2 separate regions of the Homo sapiens genome follow, and region 1 is linked to region 2. Evidence: fine-mapped expression QTL. A gene starts in region 2. The other region holds a variant in brackets. All regions are shown on one strand. Distances are from middle to middle.

Region 1 (9,452 bases), 40 kb after region 2:
CTGTAATCCCAGCTACTTGGGAGGCTGAGGCAGGAGAATCGCTTGAACCTGGGATGTAGAGATGGCAGTAAACCAAGATTGCACCACTGCACACCAGAGTGAGACTCTGTCTCAAAAGAAAAAAAAAAAGTCAAGTCATGAAACTACATTGATGAAGTCCACCTCAAATTATTCTAATTATAAAATATACAATTCTTTCATCATTTCTTAATTTCTCGTGGCAGCTGTTGCAAAATTTTACATCAGTTGTAAACATCCAGCTATGTCTCTGCTCTTTATCTGGTCTTGAGCAGATCAGGACCATCTAATATGAATTCCTTAAGATTTCCTCTTTAATATTTCAGAATCTCTGATTCATTGTCCTTCCCATTTCTTGTTCCTGTTTCTAAGAAAGAAGGTCCCTTCCTCTCTTCCTAAACTAATCTTCTATCTAAACTCATTTACAGTACCTTTTCCAATATCCTGTTCCATCCCTAATGTCTTATTCAGCCAAGTCTCTCTGCAAGTCCCTTTCCTTTGCTTATAAAAACTCTGAGATTGCCTTATCTTAAAAACAAACTAAAACAACCAACTAAACAAACAAACATTTTACTCAGTTCTGCCAGCTGCCCAGCTTGCTATTATATCTCTTCTTCATTTCCCAACCATTTATTCTTTCATCATTTGCAGTCTGGCTCTTGCCATTTACTTCTTTGAAAACCTCTTTCATGAAAGTCAGCAATGATTTCCACATATAGTGGCTTTCTTTACCTTGACATTTATACAACATTTGACACTGTACTCAACCTCCTCCTCCTTCTTGAAACTCCCTATTCTGTGACCATGGTAAGACTTAGGTATCTTCCTCTCCTACCCCTCACAGTCCTCTTCTCTGACCCTTTACTAGGTTCTTCTTTCTCTTGTCTCTTAATGTAGTGGTATCTTTAAGATTTTGTTCAGACCTTTGATTAATCTGCGGTTTAGCAACTGGTGGTTTACCCAATTGCTAAATTCCTGATGCACAAGTTTAGTCAAATTCCTCAGTTACAGAAGTCTATCAGAAAATGAAATATGATTAGTTTGTGCATGAATTTAACTTATCTCCTAATGAGCCCCTTTTTTAATGTATGTGAAAGGATATTTAAAGCAGCACAAGTAATTCTCAAAAGCATATCTATTTACGTGTAAGTTAAAGGTCAACTCTAGTAATATTGATAGTTAAAAACTATAGTGTTTATGGTAAAACCCAGCTACAAATGTATTTTTATAACAAAAATAAGTTTGTATCATATAATTTCAGTATAGCTAATTTGTTTTGTTTTAAATATCAGGTTTCTTTCTCAGTCACATATGAAATGGATCATGGAGAAGCACATGTCCAGACAGATGTAAGTTTATTTTAACCTTTTAAAATATATACAGTGTATTTTATAATTAAATGATTTCAGATGTGCAAGAAGTTGCTAAAACAAATTTGCCAGCTATTCTTTCCCCAGACTCCCCTAATGTTAGCATACAAAACCTTAGTACAATGATCATAATCTGGAAATTAATATTGATGTAGTCCTATTAACTAAACTACATACTATTTGAATTTCACTATTGAATTTTTTTCTGTTTCAGGACCCAATCTAGGGTCACATATTGCTTTTAGCTGTCATATCTCGTTAGTGTTTTACAATGTGTGACAGATTCTTAGTCTTTCTTTGTCTTTCATGACCCTAACACTTCTGAAGAGTACTGGTCCATTATTTTGGCCCTCAATTTGGGTTTGTCTGGTATTTTCCCATGATCAAATTGAGTTCATATAGTTTTGGCAAAGATGCCACCAAAGTGATGCTATAATAATAAATAAAAATAAGTATCTCATGGGGGAGATTCTTTGAAATTATGCAAACATCCTGCTTCTTCTTATTCTTCTTATTCTCCCCCTCTCATTTTTTTTTTGAGACGGAGTTTTGCACTTGTTGCCCAGGCTGGAGTGCAATGGCACGATCTTGGCTCACCGCAACCTCTGCCTCCCGGGTTCAAGCGATTCTCCTGTCTCAGCCTCCTGAATATCTGGGATTACAGGCATGTGTCACCACACCCAGCTAATTTTTGTATTTTTAGTAGAGATGGGGTTTCTCCATGTTGGTCAGGCTGGTCTCGAACTCCCAACCTCAGGTGATCCACCTGCCTCAGCCTCCCAAAGTGCTGGGAATACAGGGGTGAGCCACCATGCCCAGCCGGCCCTCTAATTTTATTTTATTTTATTTTAAATGGAGTCTCACTCTGTCGCCCAGTCTGGAGTGCAGTGGCGCTATCTCGGCCCACTGCAACCTTCACCTAGCTGGTTTAAGCAATTCCCCTGCCTCAGCCTCCCTAGTAGCTGGGATTACGGGCACACACCACCACGCCCAGCTAATTTTTTAATATTTTTAGTAGAGACAGGGTTTCATCATATTGGCCAGACTGGTCTCGAACTCCTGACCTCAGGCAATCCGCCCGTCTCGGCCTCCCAAAATGCTGGGATTACAGGCGTGAGCCACGGTGCCCGGCCCTCTAATTTTATTAAATAGCATCCATTGATGATTTTGCCTGCAGAAAGTTTCACTGTGATATTTGCCTGATGGTGATTTTCTGTTTCCCTAATTACTTTTTTATTTATTAATTTGGAACTTTACTATAAGGAGAAACTCCCTTTGCTCACATTATTTATTCAATTATTTATTTTTAAATCAGTGTGAACTCATATTTATTTTATTCTAGTAATTATAATATATTATTATTTGTTTTCTTGTTCAAATTGTCCCAGATTTGGCCATTACAAGTTCCTCCAACTTGACTCCTGTGTCCTTTCTTTTTTTTTTTTTTTGAGATGGAGTCTCACTCTGTCGCCCAGGCTGGAGTGCAGTGGCGCGATCTTGGTGGCTCACTGCAAGCTCCGCTCCCAGGTTCATGCCATTCTCCTGCCTCAGCCTCCCCAGTAGCTGGGACTACAGGCACCCACCACCATGCCCAGCTAATTTTTTGTATTTTTAGTAGAGACGGGTTTCACCGTGTTAGCCAGGATGGTCTTGATCTCCTGACCTCATGATCCGCCTGCCTCGGCCTCCCAAAGTGCTGGGATTACAGGTGTGAGCCACTGTGCCCGGCTGACTCCTGTGTCCTTTCAACATTTCCCACCCCACCATTTTTTTGAGCACTTCCTTACTTGTTCACAGTGTTTTTGAACACCGATGACAGAAATTACATAAATTCTCAATTGTTCTTTTGTTTTTTAGATTGCTTTGGGTGTATTGGGTGGGCTAGCTGTTTTAGCATCTCTTTTGAAGACAGCAGGATGGAAGAGGCGCATTGGGAGTCCCATGATTGATTTACAGGTATAATCTCAGGAGTTTTTTAAGAATATTTTTATCTTTTGACCATTCTGGATCCTTCTCATAAGACACAGCTAGAGAATAAGTAAAAAAGTTGCATTGAATTTTTCTGGGATATGTAATTAGGGTAAGTATTGCTGGGTCATATGGTATATGTGTACCTCATTTTCTTCCCACCATACTGTATGCCAGTCTATATTCCCACCAGCAATGCTCTTCTTATTTCTGCACATACTTGGCAACACTTGATATTTTTCCAACCTTTTCATTTTTTGCCAACCTCATGGCATATAGTAGTATGTCATTGTTGATTTCATTTTCATTTCTCTGTACTCTTCATATACATTTTAATCGTTTGGGTTTCTCCTTCTGTGAACTGCCTGTTTATATCCCTTGCCCATTTCTCTATTATGTTTCCAGTTTTTATTGTTTATTTGAAGAATTTTTTTTTGTATTTTCTAAATAGTAACCCCTTTTTGGTTTCTGATGTTGAAATATATGACCAAATAAATATGTGACCCATCCGTTATTTTTATCCATGTAGTCCTTTGTTTAACAGAAACTTTCAGGTTTGTTTTTGTTTTCATTTTTGTTTTTTTTTGTTGTTGTTTTTTTGAGACGGAGTCTCACTCTGTCGCTGAGGCTGGAGTGCAGAGGCACAATCTTGGTTCACTTGCAACCTCTGCCTCCCGGGTTCAAGCAATTCTCCTGCCTCAGCCTCCTGAGTAGCTGGAATTACAGGCGCACACCACCATGCCTGGCTAATTTTTGTATTTTTAGTAGAGACGGGGTTTCACCATGTTGTTCAGGCTGGTCTTGAACTCCTGGCCTCATGATCCGCCCACCTCAGCCTCCCAAAGTGCTGGGATTACAGGCATGAGCCACCACGCCTGGCCAGAAACTTTTGGTTTTGATATCATCATATCTGAATATTTTTTTTCATGTTATGATACGTGCTTTTGGGATCTTGTTTAGGAAAACCGTCCCTATATCAAGATCACAAAGATAGTCCACATTTTATTCTATTAACTTTATACTTTCACTTCATGGTTAACCTTTTATTTTTATTAAACATTTAAAAAATATTTACCATGTACCAGGCACTTTTTAAAGCTTTATGTATGTAATTTTCTGAATCCGCACAGTAGCTCTTTGAAGTTAGGTTATTATTATTATTTGCGTTTTACACGTGATGAAATTGAGGTAAAGGTTAAATTTTCTACTCACTTGATTTTTGCAACTCAGTAATAGGTATTTCCGTTTTGTTGATGAAGAACATGAGAAAGGTTACATGGTAGCTTTAACCAAAGTATCTTTCTGATTCCAAAGCCAGTGGGCTAAGGAATCAGCAGGGGTACTTGATTTACTACTTGGGATAGTCCAGAAAGGCTTCCCAGAGAAATGAACTTTAAGTGGGATTATCTGTTCATTCTA[T/C]AATAGTCACTGAGGCTCTATTGTCTAAGTGTCTGGCACTCTACCAGGAGCTGGAGAATGTGTTAGTGAGCAAAGACAGACATAGTCTGTGCTCTCAGAAATCATGAGAACTTACCAGAGAGGGGAAGAGAAGAATATTTGGTAAAACAATGCCCATTTTATTCCAGAAAGTATTTGAGATGAACGTATGGAGTGGTTAGTCATTGACTACATGGCTGGAACTGGCAGATGAGGCTAAAAAGTTAATTTTGGCCCATATTGTGAAAGACCTTGTGGATCAGGAATTTATATTGCAATGAGGAGTTGTTCATTTTTAACAAGGGGAGTGACACAATCCAATTTACATCTTAGAAAACTAACTCTGGTGGTAGTGTGGAGGAGAGATTAGAGGGGAGGATTCCCAACTAAGAGAAAATTAGGAAGCAGTTCAATTTTCTTAGATAGTGAAAGATGAGAAGAGTTGAAAGAAGAGGCTACCAGGAACGGCCAGAAAGGTAAGGAGCCAAAAGGTAGCAAGGAGGAGGAAGCAGGTGGTCTTTATAGCTGGATCATATGGGGATATGTGAAACAAGGCTTCAGGCTTAAGAAATGGAGTGGATGATGTATAAAAGTGGTAGTGTTACTAAAAGTGGTATATACATGGAGTCTTAAACAGCTGTAATTCTTTTTTTTAAATTGCAGACAGTTGTGAAATTCTTGGTGTACTATGCTGGTGATCTGGCCAATGTTTTCTTTATCATCACAGTGGGAACAGGTCTTTACTGGCTTATTTTCTTCAAAGTGAGTGAGTTTCTGAATTTTCCCCAACTGCCAATATCTGAATAGTTGAAAAGCTTTCTTTATAAAGGAACTATTTTTATTTGAGAGAATTTTTGATCAACAGTATTAAGAAAAGTTCCCAACTCCCCATTCCTTGAGTGTGCTGAGCTTATCGATTACATCACTATCTTCCTCTTTTATGCTTTCTTTGGTTTATAAATTGTGCTTAGTAAAAACCTTGTTCAATTGGAAGACTTAGGTGGGAGGATCCTGTGAGTCCAGAATCAAGTCCTGCCCGGGCAGCATACTGAGACCCTCCTTTCCCAAAAAAAAACAAAAACGAAAACAAAAAACAAACAAACAAACAAAAAAAACTGTGTGTGATAATATTTAATCAAGTAATTTTTATTATAGGCACAGAAGTCTGTGTCTGTTTTGCTGCCAATGCCAATTCAGGAAGAACGTTTTGTCACTTATGTTGGATGTGCCTTTGCTCTGAAGGTAAGTTTTAAAGGACAGGTTACCAAATTTAAAAGGCCTGCTAATGAACTAACAAGTCTTTAAAATTAAAATGCTTTCAAAAATCTTTGGCGTGAAATTCACTTTGGTTTTGAAAGAAAGCATTAATTATTTTATGTGGTAAATTTACTTTTATTTATAGTAGATGCTCAGTCTGAAACTCTGCCTTAAATATTTTTTTCAAAGAAGCCATGAATTTGTATGGCTTATTTGATAAAATGATATTTCAGTATATAACTTTCTTTAAAGTCTGATGATACATTCACAATGGGACAAAATGTCTTCAGGCATGAATTTTGTCTCCATTAATCAAGGGTAAAAGGTACCACTCTGGATAAAGTGTTGAGATCTTAAAAGTTGTTTTGTCTGTCTCCAGATTCCTTTGCTCCTTTCTTCCTATGGCCCCCCAATCCCCAACTCAGTGTTCTCCATCAATGTAGGTGAATCTCTTTATATGCCTGTTGGTAGTCCTTATCCTATTTTACTGTGAGTGTTAAGTGTCTGCTTTTTCCACTGACTGGGAGCTTCTTGAGGTGAAGTATCTCATACTTAGATTTTTATCCTTTATTTGATGAATAATGCAGCAACTAGAAAGAATGCCTCAGTTTAAACATATTGCTTGTATAAATAAGAAAGATGTGTTTCAACAGCACATTCTTTAAAAATCAGAAATCTGAATAGCAGAAATAGAAAAAAAAGACAGTAAGAGCATTCGAAAACTTTAATTAGGAAAAACAAACTATAGTTGAAAATATCTTTACTTATAAAGAAGTCAGCTGATCTACAAAACAAAGTGTGCTTCTAGAATCTTTGGGAAAGAGTCAATTATATAAGTCCCTATGTGAGGAGGAGGAAAAATGTCTCCTCTTTTCATATTCCTATTTTAAAGAAAGAAAGAAAAAGGGAAGGTAAATTAAGATGTATATGAAAATTCTGTGAATTTGATGATTCCAGGTTATCTGATGAGCTTCTAATGATTCCTTAGTGGTATTATAACTTCATGTGAATTCACTCATAAAATTATATGTTCTTGTGATAACAGTATGTTTCTTAAAGAGTCAATATTGGTTTTATAAGCAGACTTAACGCTGGTACTTTTTCAGGTGTTTTATTATATGTCATTCTCAGGCACTACAATTTTTGCATAAGCTCATATCCCAGATTACAATAGATGTATTCTTTATTGATTGGGAGCGACCTAAAGGAAAGGTTCTTAAAGCTGTTGAAGGTAACTGAAATAAAAAATATTTGTACCAAAATTCTTTTGCTACCCTTGCAGAGCAAAGGAGGTAAAACTCTTTTACTCATTTTATTTTCCTGACCAGGTGAGGGTGGTGTACGAAGTGCCACTGTTCCTGTAAGCATATGGAGAACATATTTTGTAGCAAATGAATGGAATGAAATTCAGACTGTGAGAAAAATTAATTCACTCTTTCAAGTACTTACTGTCCTCTTCTTTTTGGAGGTATAAACTGTTTGATGTGATTATATGCGACTTACATGTACCTTATAAATATTAAACTAATATAATTCCAACTAAGTTTTCATGACAGTGGAAGATTTCTCTAAAGGTTGAAATATTGTTGTGAAGCCATTAAAAAGGAGTACCTTTATGTTACGTATTTTACCACAATTCTTTTTTTAAGTTTACCATCTTAAGCATTTTTAAGTGTAGAGTTTAATAGTGTTAAGTTGGCCAGGCACAGTGGCTCATGCCTGTAATCCCAACACTTTGGGAGGCTGAGGCAGGCGGATCACCTGAGGTTGGAAGTTCAAGACCAGCCTGGCCAACATGGAGAAACCCCGTCTCTACCAAAAAATACAAAATTAGCTGGGCATGGCGGCACATGCCTATAATCCCAGCTGCTCGGGAGGCTGAGGCAGGAGAATTGCTTGAACCCGGGAGGCGGAGGTTACAGTGAGCCGAGATTGCACCATTGAACTCCAGCCTGGGCAGAAAGAGCAAAACTCCATCTCAGAAAAAAACAAACAAACAAAAAGTAGTGTTACGTACATTCACATTGCCACGCAAAATCATCATCACCATTCATCTTAGAACTCTTCATCTTGCAAAACTGAAACTCTATACCCCTTAAACAACTCTGTACCCATTCCCTGCTACACCTAACCCCAGGCAACCACCATTCTATAATACTTTCTGTCTCTGTGTGTTTGACTGCTCTAGGTGTAAGGAGTAGCTTTAAAACCACTGGTTTGTATCAGAATCCCTTGGGGATCTTTTGTAAAATACCTATGCTCAGGCTCACCCTTAGAGACTATGTGTTGATTTAGTAGCTTTGAGGTAACTCCAGGTATCTATATTTTGAAAAAGCTCCCTACCCCCGATCCATATTCTCCCCTGCATTAGAATCACTATTATAAGTTTGATATTTTTCAACAAATTTGTATTGAACACTTACTGTAGACTATGTTCTGTGCTAAGAGCTGGGGCTACACTGAACAAAACACAACATGTTTGTGATACATATGCAGTTATTTCATGGATTTGGTTGGAATTATTAAAGGAAGTATTCAGTACTGAGTATAAGACTGAACATGGAAACAGTTTATATGGGAATAGGTTTTCTCAGGAATTATCTGCTTAATTAAGATTGAATATAAATCATTAACTCTTAGGTCTGTCTGTCTGCCTTCCCTCTTTTTTCTTCTTTCTTTCCATTCTCTTTCCCCTTTCCCTTCCTTTCCTTTTATAAAACTAGTAGAAGAATGTTTGTATCCCTAGGGCTTTAAAATAATATGAACAAGACTTCCAAAGTTCACTTGAAGTGGTATTTTGGTTTTTCTTAAATGGACAGATAAAAATTACATATGTTTATAGTTTACAATACAGTGTTTTGATATATGTATTCATTGTGGAATGGCTAAATCAAGCTAGTTTATCTGTTACCTCACATCTTTTCTTTTTGTACTAAAGTAGTGTGTGTGTGTGTGTGTGTGTGTGTGTGTGTGTGTGTGTGTTTAAGAGTTTCCTCAGCTTTAAAAGGTGTTATGTGAAAAAGTTTTATGGTCAAGTAAGTTTGGAAAATATTGGATTCAGTATAATCATGTAGCACCTTTTACTGTAAAACTTCTCAGAGCCTTTATTCTACAAGGGTGGGAGGCATGGAGGTGAGTGTAATGGATGGACCAAAAGTATTTAAACATAGATTCTTTTTTCAAGAACTTATGTCCTTTAGAAGACATTTTGTAATATACTGTTTTAAAGTATAAAAATGTTTAGTACAGTGCCTGGCACATGTCAAATACTCATGAAATACTACTTGTTGGTTTCACTCATTGGTAGTTTACTGATGAAAGTTTTATCCTTTTAATTAAATTTTTAGTCTTGTCAGTGTGTATGACAATAAGGTTATATTTGGCCCTTAGTCATATTGAGAA
Region 2 (9,452 bases):
TTTTGAGACAAAGTTCCGCTCTTGTTGCCCATTCTGGAGTGTAATGTCGTAGTCTGGGATCACTGCAACCTCCACCTCCTGGGTTCCAGCAATTCTCCTGCCTCAGCCTCCTGAGAAGCTGGGATTACAGGCATGGCCACCACGCCCAGCTAATTTTTGTATTTTTAGTAGAGACGGGGTTTCACCGTTTAGGTCAGGCTGGTCTCGAACTCCTGACCTCAGGTGATCCACCTGCTTTGGCCTGCCAAAGTGCTGGATTACAGGCGTGAGCCACCGCGCCTGGCCACCCACTTTTGTATGTATGTAAATGGCAAAAGGTCCCAAGATTTAGGAGGAAAGCCTTTTATACAAAACATAACTTTGAAGAAACAGATTATGCAACAGAGGGAAACTTTAAAACACCACTAGTAATGTATTCTAGGAAATAAGATATTGCAGCATGGAAGAATTCAAGAATGCCATAATTAAGCTATAGCCAGAAAACAAAAGAGAGCTCTTAGAAATTAAATTTATAATAGAAGAAATGAAAAGTTCAATTCAATGTTTGACAGATACGCGCAGGAAAATCTTCCAGAAAGTAGAACCAAACAAAACAAAATGAAAAATGAAGCCTGGGCGCGGTGGCTCACGCTTGTAATCCTTGCACTTTGGTAGGCCGAGATGGGTGGATCACCAGAGGTCGGGAGTTTGAGACCAGCCTGACCAACATGGAGAAACTCCGACTCCACTAAAAATAACAAAATTAGCCCTGCGTGGTGGCACATGCCTGTAATCCCAGCTACTCGGGAGGCTGAGGCAGGAGAATCACTTGAACCCAGGAGGTGGAGGTTGCAGTGAGCAGAGATCGTGCCATTGCACTCCAGCCTGGGCAACAAGAGCAAAAAAACTCCGACACACACACACACACACACACACACACACACACGCCGGGCGCGGTGGCTCACGCCTGTAATCCTAGCACTTTGGGAGGCCGAGGCGGGCAGATCACGAAGTCAGAAGATTGACACCATCCTGGCTAATACGGTGAAACCCCGTCTCTACTAAAAACACAAAAAATTAGCCGGGCGAGGTGGCGGGCTCCTGTAGTCCCAGCTACTCCGGAGGCTGAAGCAGGATAATGGCGTGAACCCGGGAGGCGGAGCTTGCAGTGAGCGGAGATCCCGCCTCCCGCCACTGTACTCCAGCCTGGGCGACAGAGCGAGACTCCGTCTCAAAAAAAAAAAAAAAGAAAAAAGAAAAGAAAAATGAAAACATAATCTGAGAAAATTAGAGGAACAGTCCAGGAAGTCTAGTATCTGAAAAATAGGGTGTCCAGAAGAAAAAAAAAACGGAGAGAAAGTCTTCAAAGGAATAATTAGTAGAAGAGATCATTTCCCAGTGTTAAAGGACATGAGTTTCTTTGCTGAATTGCAAAGTTACAACAGGTGTTCCACACAAAAGATGACAATGAAACATGCCCAGACACATCACTGTAAAATTAAGAAAAATGAGAAGGTGGGGCACAGAGAGGAACATCCTGAAGACTTCAAGAAAGTAAAAAACAAGTTACACACAAAAGATTAACAAATCAAAAGGGCACTAAGTGTCTGGAGATTGGGAATGAACACAGGGTTCACCACACAAAGTGCCCCAGATGTAAGATCTGAACCTCACTAATTCCCCTTTCTCACCACAACCTCCACTTCTGTTTTTCACCTTCTTTGTAATATTTTAATTCATTAATCTCATCTTGAACTTACTTGCCTTTAGCTTTTCTTTATTCCTGCCCAGAAAAGCACATCCAGAGATTCAAAGGCAACAATAAAAAGCAGGGCTTAAGAGTGTGGGCTCTGCATTATCCAAAGCAAACTTGTCACAGAGAAAACCTCAAAATCAGGGTTCAGCCTGAGTGGCCATGTGGGTTCTCAGCTTCATGCAGGAAGGAATTCAAGAGCAATCTGACAGAATAAAGTGAAAGCAAGTTTGTTAAGAAAGTAAAGGAATAAAGAGTGGCTACTTCATAGGCAGAGCAATGGCAAGGACTGCTAGACTGAGTATATTTATGGTTATTCCTTGATCATATACTAAACAAGGGGTGGATTATTCATGAGTTTTCCAGGAAAAAGGTGGGGAATTCCTGGAACGGAGCGTCCTCCCTTGTTAGACCATGTAGGGTAACTTCTCTAAGTGGGCATGGCAAGGGGCAAACTGTCAAGGTGCTGGTGGGAGTGTCTTTTAGCATGTTAATCCATTGTAATTAGCATATAATGAGCAGTGAGGATGGCCAGAGGTCACTTTGGTCACCATCTTGGTTTTAGCAGGTTTCAGTCCTCTTCTTTACCTATCCTGTTTTATCAGCCAGGTCTTTATGATCTTATCCTGTGAAATCAGTCCTGCCAACCTCCTATCTCAAACTAACACAGGAAAGAAATAAAATACTGTGTGTTCTCACTTATTAGTTGGAGCTAACATTGTGTACAGGTGGACACAAAGAAGGGAACAATAGATACTGGGTACTACTTGAGGGTGGAGGGTGAAAGGAGAGTATGGATCAAAAAACTACCTATTGGGTTCTATGCTTATCACATGGGTAAGGAAATAATCTGATCCCCAAACCCCCGAGACACTCAATTTACCTATATAACAAACCTGCACATGTACCTCTGAACCTAAATTAAAGTTTAAAACAACAACAACAACAACAAAAACCCGAAGAAAAGTATGGGCTCTGGTGTCAAATTACCAGGGTTAGAACCATGAATTAAGTGTGACCTTAGAAAGTCACTTATACTTTCTAAGCCTTGGTTATTTCATCTGTAAATTAAAGGTGATGATAACAGTCCCAATTTAGGATCAAATGAGATATTGCAATGCCGGACACATTAAAAGTGTCTCCATGGGACTAGCCCAAACTGAGCCTACTCTGTTGATAACAAAATGTCGTGTTACCTTTTAGATGTAACAGAGCCAAAAACTGAAAGTCATGTAGCCCAGTCATGTGCAATAGAAAAAGCCTGGACCTCTAACAACACCCAAAACCAGTGAATCCTTTCCTTGGAACCAAGACCGGGACATGACTGGAACCTGAACTTGGAACTCTTTCAAAAGTGTTGGGTCCATTTGCCTGGAGGATCAGGCCTAAAATCGGCCTCTACGTACCTTTTTCTAAATGGTCAAATTTCAAGTCCTCCATTCTGCCTGCCAAGACACATTCCTAAATTCTTCCCTTGGCTTTCCAAGCCCATAAGTTTACCCCAGACTCTAAATCAGGGAAACAGATTTGAATGCACTCCTATCTCCTTGCTGACCAGTTGTGCAAATAAAGACTTTTTTTCCTCAAAAGCTTGTGCCACATAGTATTGGCTTCTGTGCATGCATTGGATAGAGAGCTCATTTGCTTGATAACAAAAACAAGCTATTAATACCTATTATTTCTATTATTATCCATACCTCTAGCTCCCACCATGTTAAATATTCCTATAACTTTCATTTCTACCTTAAAATTTTCTTTATCCAATAAGTTTTCGCTTAGAAGCTATCTACCACAGGTATCTTCCTTTAATATCACAACCGTCTACCCAGCCACCCAAATCAGAAACCTGGAAGTTATCCTTGATTCTGTTTGTTTACTTCCTATGTCCAAATAATAAAATTCTTATAATTCTTCTTCCTGAATAGCTCCTTTATTCATCCTCTTCTGCCTCTCCCTTCCTCCATGGCTCCAATTTAGACTCTAGATTTCTACCTTAGCCTCGCAAGTGGTCTCTAACTCTAAACGTTTCCATATTTTTGTCCAGGATTTTTTTTTTTTTTTATATAGGGTCTCTGACATCCAGGCTGGAGTGCAGTGGCACGATCATAGCTTATTGCAGCCTTTGGGCTCATTGACCTCCTGGGCTTAAGTGGTTCTCCCGCCTCAGCCTTCCAAGCAACCGGGACCATAGGCATGTGCCACCCACCCAGCTAATTAAAATAAATTTTATTTGTAGAGGTGGAGTCTCACTATGTTGCCCAGGCTGGTCTTGAATTCCTGGGCTCAGACAATCCTTCCACTGTGGCCTCCCAAAATGTTAGGATTAGAGGTGTGAGCCACAGCACCAGGCTTAGATTCCTTTATTCACAAAAGGTGTAAAGGTGATCTCATTTTATATACATGTCAACTAAAGAAAAAAATCAGGCTTTTAAAGACTCAAAGTTAGTTTTATTCGGAGTCTTACTGAGGAATGCAACCCTGGAGAGTCTTTCAAAGAGTTTATGTTATACTGGTCCAAAGCAGCTGTTCTGCCCCCAGTTTCTACATCAAGGGATGGAGTTCTGCATGTGCTCAAAAGTTACATTAAACGTGCTCAGAAGTTACGTTGGAGCAAAATCTCATCAAAGTTTTGTTTGGAGACTACATCTGGTTATAGATTACAGAGGCATAATCATTAATCCTGTCACACGTTATCTTACGTACAGGAAGAGGCAAGAGCTAGGATCGCTGACTGTATCTTTTTAAAAAATGAAGTGATTCAAGCAACAGATGTGAAAACTTGTGCTCTATCCTACTTATTGTCTTCAGGGCATTCTTCTGGAGGACTGCGTTCAGTCACTGAGTCAGGGGCTTTGTGAAATTTCGCTGGCAACAGAATGAGCAAACATGGTTTCTTCCGTTTCGTACTTTGTCTCGCATACATGATTTCCTATGCTCAAACCTGGCAGGAAAGTTTTTTTATTTTTTCAGTCTTTGAGCTATAGTAATCCTTCACTGGGTTTTAAGTCAGTGGGGTTTTTTGACATCAAATTGTTAAACTACAAGTCATGTTTCCTTTAACGTGAAAATTACCTAGTCTGAATAAATTCTGATGTAACTATAACTCGACAAATTATGATATTTTCAACTTACGATGGGTTTATTGCGGGGAGGGGGCAGCCCTATCGTAAGTAGAGGAACTCTATACACGTTTGAAAATATCGCTGGGCTCCAGGGTTAACCGGTCTCTAACCCATTCTTTACTGGACCTGCCAACTTCGCGCAGGGTTGGTAACCTAGCAACCAAGCAACACGAGCAGTGACTTCCGGTACCCGGACTTGGGTTGTCCAATCAGCTCAGCGAAGCCGCCGCAGAGGCTGATGGGGGGCTGGAGGCTGTGAGGCTTCCAGCGTCGGTACCATGGCGACGCGCGGTGGGGCTGGGGTGGCAATGGCGGTTTGGTCCCTCTTATCCGCCCGGGCCGTGACCGCGTTCCTTCTGTTGTTCCTCCCTCGCTTCTTACAGGCCCAGACCTTCTCTTTCCCTTTCCAGCAGCCGGAGAAGTGCGACAACAACCAGTACTTTGATATCTCCGCCCTCTCGTGTGTTCCTTGTGGAGCTAACCAGAGGCAAGATGCCCGAGGTAAGACGGTTTGCGGTGGGCCCTGGCAAAAGTAACACTCCCGCCTTGGTCGGCCCCTAGTCCCCGTAAATGGAGTTTCACCATGTTGATCAGGCTAGTCTCGAACTTCTGACCTCAGGTGATCCACCCGCCTCCGCCTCCCAAAGTGCTGGGATTACAGGCGTGAGCCACCGCGCCTGGCCCGAATACATGTATATTGTTTAGTGACGTAGAAATGTAAAATTTCCAGCAGCAGTTAAGTAGTTTAATAGTTTAGTTATACTTGCACTTAAAATGGTAGCAGCATAATACCAGCTGTGTGCCAGTGTAAGACCTCTACGTATAATAACTAATTTTGTACTCATACTAACCCTGTGAGGTAGGTACCAATTTTTTTTCTCCATTTTATTGTAGAGGAAGCCAAGGCAGAGAGTTTAGTAACTTGTTCAAGGTCATGCAACTGAGTAGGATTACTACGATTGGAACTCAAGAAGTGTATTTCTGGATTTGAACCCAGGCAGTACTGCCTCCAGAATCCTGCTGTTAATCACTATACTGCTTCTCAAGATCTTCAGACTTATTAAAAGTTTCACTATCTGGGAACTTTATTTTTATTTATCAAGGATAAAATTGGCTTTTTTTTTTTTTTTTTTTTTTTTAGGAACTTCATGTGTATGTCTACCAGGATTTCAGATGATCTCTAATAATGGAGGACCTGCTATTATTTGTAAAAAGTGCCCAGAAAACATGGTGCGCATAATTTATTTTAAAATAACTTACCTGTAAAAAGTAGTAAGTTAAATATCTTTATTTTTCAAAATATAATTTAATGTTTAATGTTTCCCCACAGACTTTAAAATTACTATGCTAATTTTATTTTTACTAGAGTAAGTTTTGGGAGATCAGCGAAATTTCATGCAAACTTGGAGAAAACAGAAATGTATTTCTTTTAAAATCTGAAATCCAAAAACCACAAAGCTGTAAAAATTTAAGTTTTTGTTTTTACTCGTAGAATAACTCGGTTATGAAGAAAATTAGATGAATAAGGCATATATAGAGCAGTCTGGGATGTGTGCAATTTGGGATGTGTATATTCTTTTGACTGATGCAAGTGGAGTTGTCTTAGACCTACCATGTCAACAGTTTATATGATTATTGATGTTCATAATGATATCTAAGGTGTAATTATTTCATGAAATACCAATTGCATTAATAGATTAAATAATGTCTGTTTCTGTTTTGTTAGTAATTTCATTGTATCGTAATTTAAAAAAAATTAGTAAATAGTTACTATATATAATTCTCAACATAAATATATTTTTCAATCATGTTGGATAATTAAAAGTCTGTGTAACAGTTGTGACATTTACAGTAATGTTTCTTCTCATTGTCATATAAAAAATATTAATTCTGGGAATTTAATGTGAAGTTATCAATTGTCCCAATTTATAGCTATCTGTATTACTTGTAAGTCTGATTACCACTTTTTATATTACCATTTATTTTATATCTTTATAATAGATTATAATAGATTACCATTTATTTTATATCTTTGCAAATATTGATCCTAGCTGAATTACCCATGATAAAAAGCTGCTAATAAAAAGTGGTCTCGCAGCAGATTTCTTTTTCAGTGACATTGTTTAAGTTATTGTAATTTTTAAATTGTCCTGTATAGGCCAGGCACAGTGGCTCATGCCTGTAATCCCAGCAGTTTGGGAGGCTGAGCCTGGTGGATCATGAGCTCAGGAGTTTGAGACCAGCCTGGCCAATATGGTGAAACCCCATCTCTACTAAAAATACAAAAATGAGCTGGCTGTGGTGGCGCGTGCCTGTAGTCCCAGCTGCTTGGGAGGCTGAGGCAAGAGAATCGCTTGAACTCAGGAGGCAGAGGTTGCAGTAAGCCAAGATTGCACCATTGCACTCCAGCCTGGGTGACAGAGCGAGACTCTGTCTCAAAAAAATAAATAAAATATAAATAAATAAATAAATAAATAAATAAATAAATAAATAAATTGTCCTGTATAAATGTATTGCCAAATATAGGAGTATTTCTTGATAAATTCAGTCTTTTCAACCAAAATTTAAAATAATTTGTGGCATTATTTTTGTTCTTTATAAACTTTGGTTACATCTGTGTTTGTAATTATTGTGTTTTTTGCCCCAGGCTTTTCCTAAACCATATGATATAATAAGCCCAATTTTGAATGCTGTCATACTTTATCAAAAACCTTTACTAGGCCGGGCGCGGTGGCTCACGCCTGTAATCCCAGCACTTTGGGAGGCTGAGGCAGGTGGATCACGAGGTCAAGAGATCAAGACCATCCTGGCAAATGTGGTGAAACCCCATCTCTACTAAAAATACAAAAATTAGCTGGACGTGGTGGCACGTGCCTGTAGTCCCAGCTACTCGGGAGGCTGAGGCAGGAGAATTGTTTGAACCTGGGAGGCAGAGCTTGCAGTGAGCCGAGATTGTGCCACTGCACTCCAGCCTGGCAACAGAGCAAAGACTCTGTCTCAAAAAAAAAAAAACCTTTACTAGTACAAGCCATAAATGGATAGAAGAAAATATTCTCATAAATCAATTTTAACAACTATGTGTATAATTTATATATTTCATAAAATTTACCCATTTTGAATCATAAATGAATTTTTTTTTTTTTTGAAAGAGAGTATTACTGTTGCTCAGGCTGGAGTGCAGTGGCACGATCTCAGCTCACTGCAACCTCCACCTTTCTGGTTCAAGCCATTCTGGTGCCTCAGCCTCCCAAGTAGGATTATAGGCATACACCACCACGCCCAGCTAATTTTTGTATTTTTAGTAGAGACGAGGTTTCACCACATTGGCCAGGCTGGCCTCAAGCTTTGGCCTCAAGTGATCCACCCACCTTGGCCTCCCAAAGTGCTGGAATTACAGACGTGAGCCACTGTGCCTGGACTAAATTTTTTAGGTATTTGAATTTTTAAAAATTAGAATAGAGTTTTAGAACAGGTAAGATTAACCTATTAACTGACCGTTGATTCAATCTTTTTGTGTTGTGTTGTGTTTTATATTTGTAAATGGAAAAACGAAATGACAAATAATTATGAAAGAGGCATCCATTTGAATTAAAGATCCTGAAGAAGAGAGAACTATTATCCGGAGTTAATCCTTTAATAGTTTTCAGGACATAGTGATAATATAGAGCTTCATTTTGGAATATAAGCATGAATTATCTCTCCAGGGAATTTTTATGTGGCTCATATATGTATGATTTATTTGAATATTCACTGTAGTTACATACTCTTATGGCATTTTGAACTTACATGATTAGAAGAAGAAAGTTAATTAAAAAAGAGAAAAGCATTTTTTTTCTTTTAATTTAGAAAGGTGTTACAGAAGATGGCTGGAACTGCATTTCTTGCCCTAGTGACTTAACTGCCGAAGGAAAATGTCACTGTCCCATTGGCCATATTTTAGGTAAGAATTAGATTCCTTATAAAGAAGTAGTGATAAATCTTCATTCTTGTTTTTGTTTTTATTTGAAAAGGGCACTAATTTAAATAGTTAAGTGATTACTTAATATTTTTGCAGTGGCTCAAGCAATTCTCCTGCCTCAGCTTCCTGAGTAGCTGGGACTGCACACATAACACCACTGCAGCTGGCTAATTTTTAAATTTTTTGTAGAGACTGGGTCTCGTTATGTTGCTCAGCCTGGTCTTGAACTCCTGGCCTCGAGAGATCTTCCTGCCTCAGCCTCCTAAAGTGCTGGGATTATAGGCATCAGTCACTGTGTCCAGCCCTTAATAGTGTTTATAAAAATTATTTTTGTACAAATTAATGATACTTAAAACATCAGCAGGCATTGAGAAGAAAATACAAAGTTTTGTCTGAGTTTTTTAAAACTCTTAATATTGTAGGATTAGATGGTTATTTCCTTAACATAACATGACAAAATATGTCTCAACTCAAAAGCCAACTTGATACTTAATAGGGAAAAAGCGTAAGCATTCCTGTTAATGTCAGGACCTGGAAAAGGATGCAAACTATGCACTTAAGTAAGAGAAAAAAAATATTTATCATTGGAAAAGAAAAGGTAGGCCGTTGTTAATCCTAGCACTTTGGAAGGCTAAGGCAG

Direction of the effects. Alleles are on the strand shown, and positions count from the first base shown. SD is a standard deviation of normalised expression in the study named.
For the expression in atrial appendage of the gene that starts at base 5,112 in region 2, C is the low allele of the variant in region 1 and T is the other (large effect, 1.3 SD a copy in GTEx).

What was found. PIP is the estimated chance that this variant, and not a neighbour inherited with it, causes the effect.
Region 1: its variant is fine-mapped to the expression of TMEM67 in atrial appendage (GTEx, PIP above 0.99). The same link has a PIP of 0.9 or more in left ventricle.

What each region holds. Positions count from the first base shown.
Region 1 is chr8:93,789,953-93,799,404 of GRCh38, forward strand. TMEM67 (transmembrane protein 67) reads left to right here. Exons shown (of 28, transcript NM_153704.6): 15 at 1,311-1,367; 16 at 3,246-3,344; 17 at 5,457-5,555; 18 at 5,949-6,035; 19 at 7,182-7,281; 20 at 7,379-7,518. Among named protein-coding and RNA genes, the nearest start is that of TMEM67, 40 kb to the left of the region's middle. The variant T/C (reference allele first, on the strand shown) is at 4,776.
Region 2 is chr8:93,749,783-93,759,234 of GRCh38, forward strand. It overlaps TMEM67 (transmembrane protein 67), which reads left to right and starts at 5,112. Exons shown (of 28, transcript NM_153704.6): 1 at 5,112-5,355; 2 at 5,996-6,084; 3 at 8,701-8,794. The coding sequence starts at 5,133.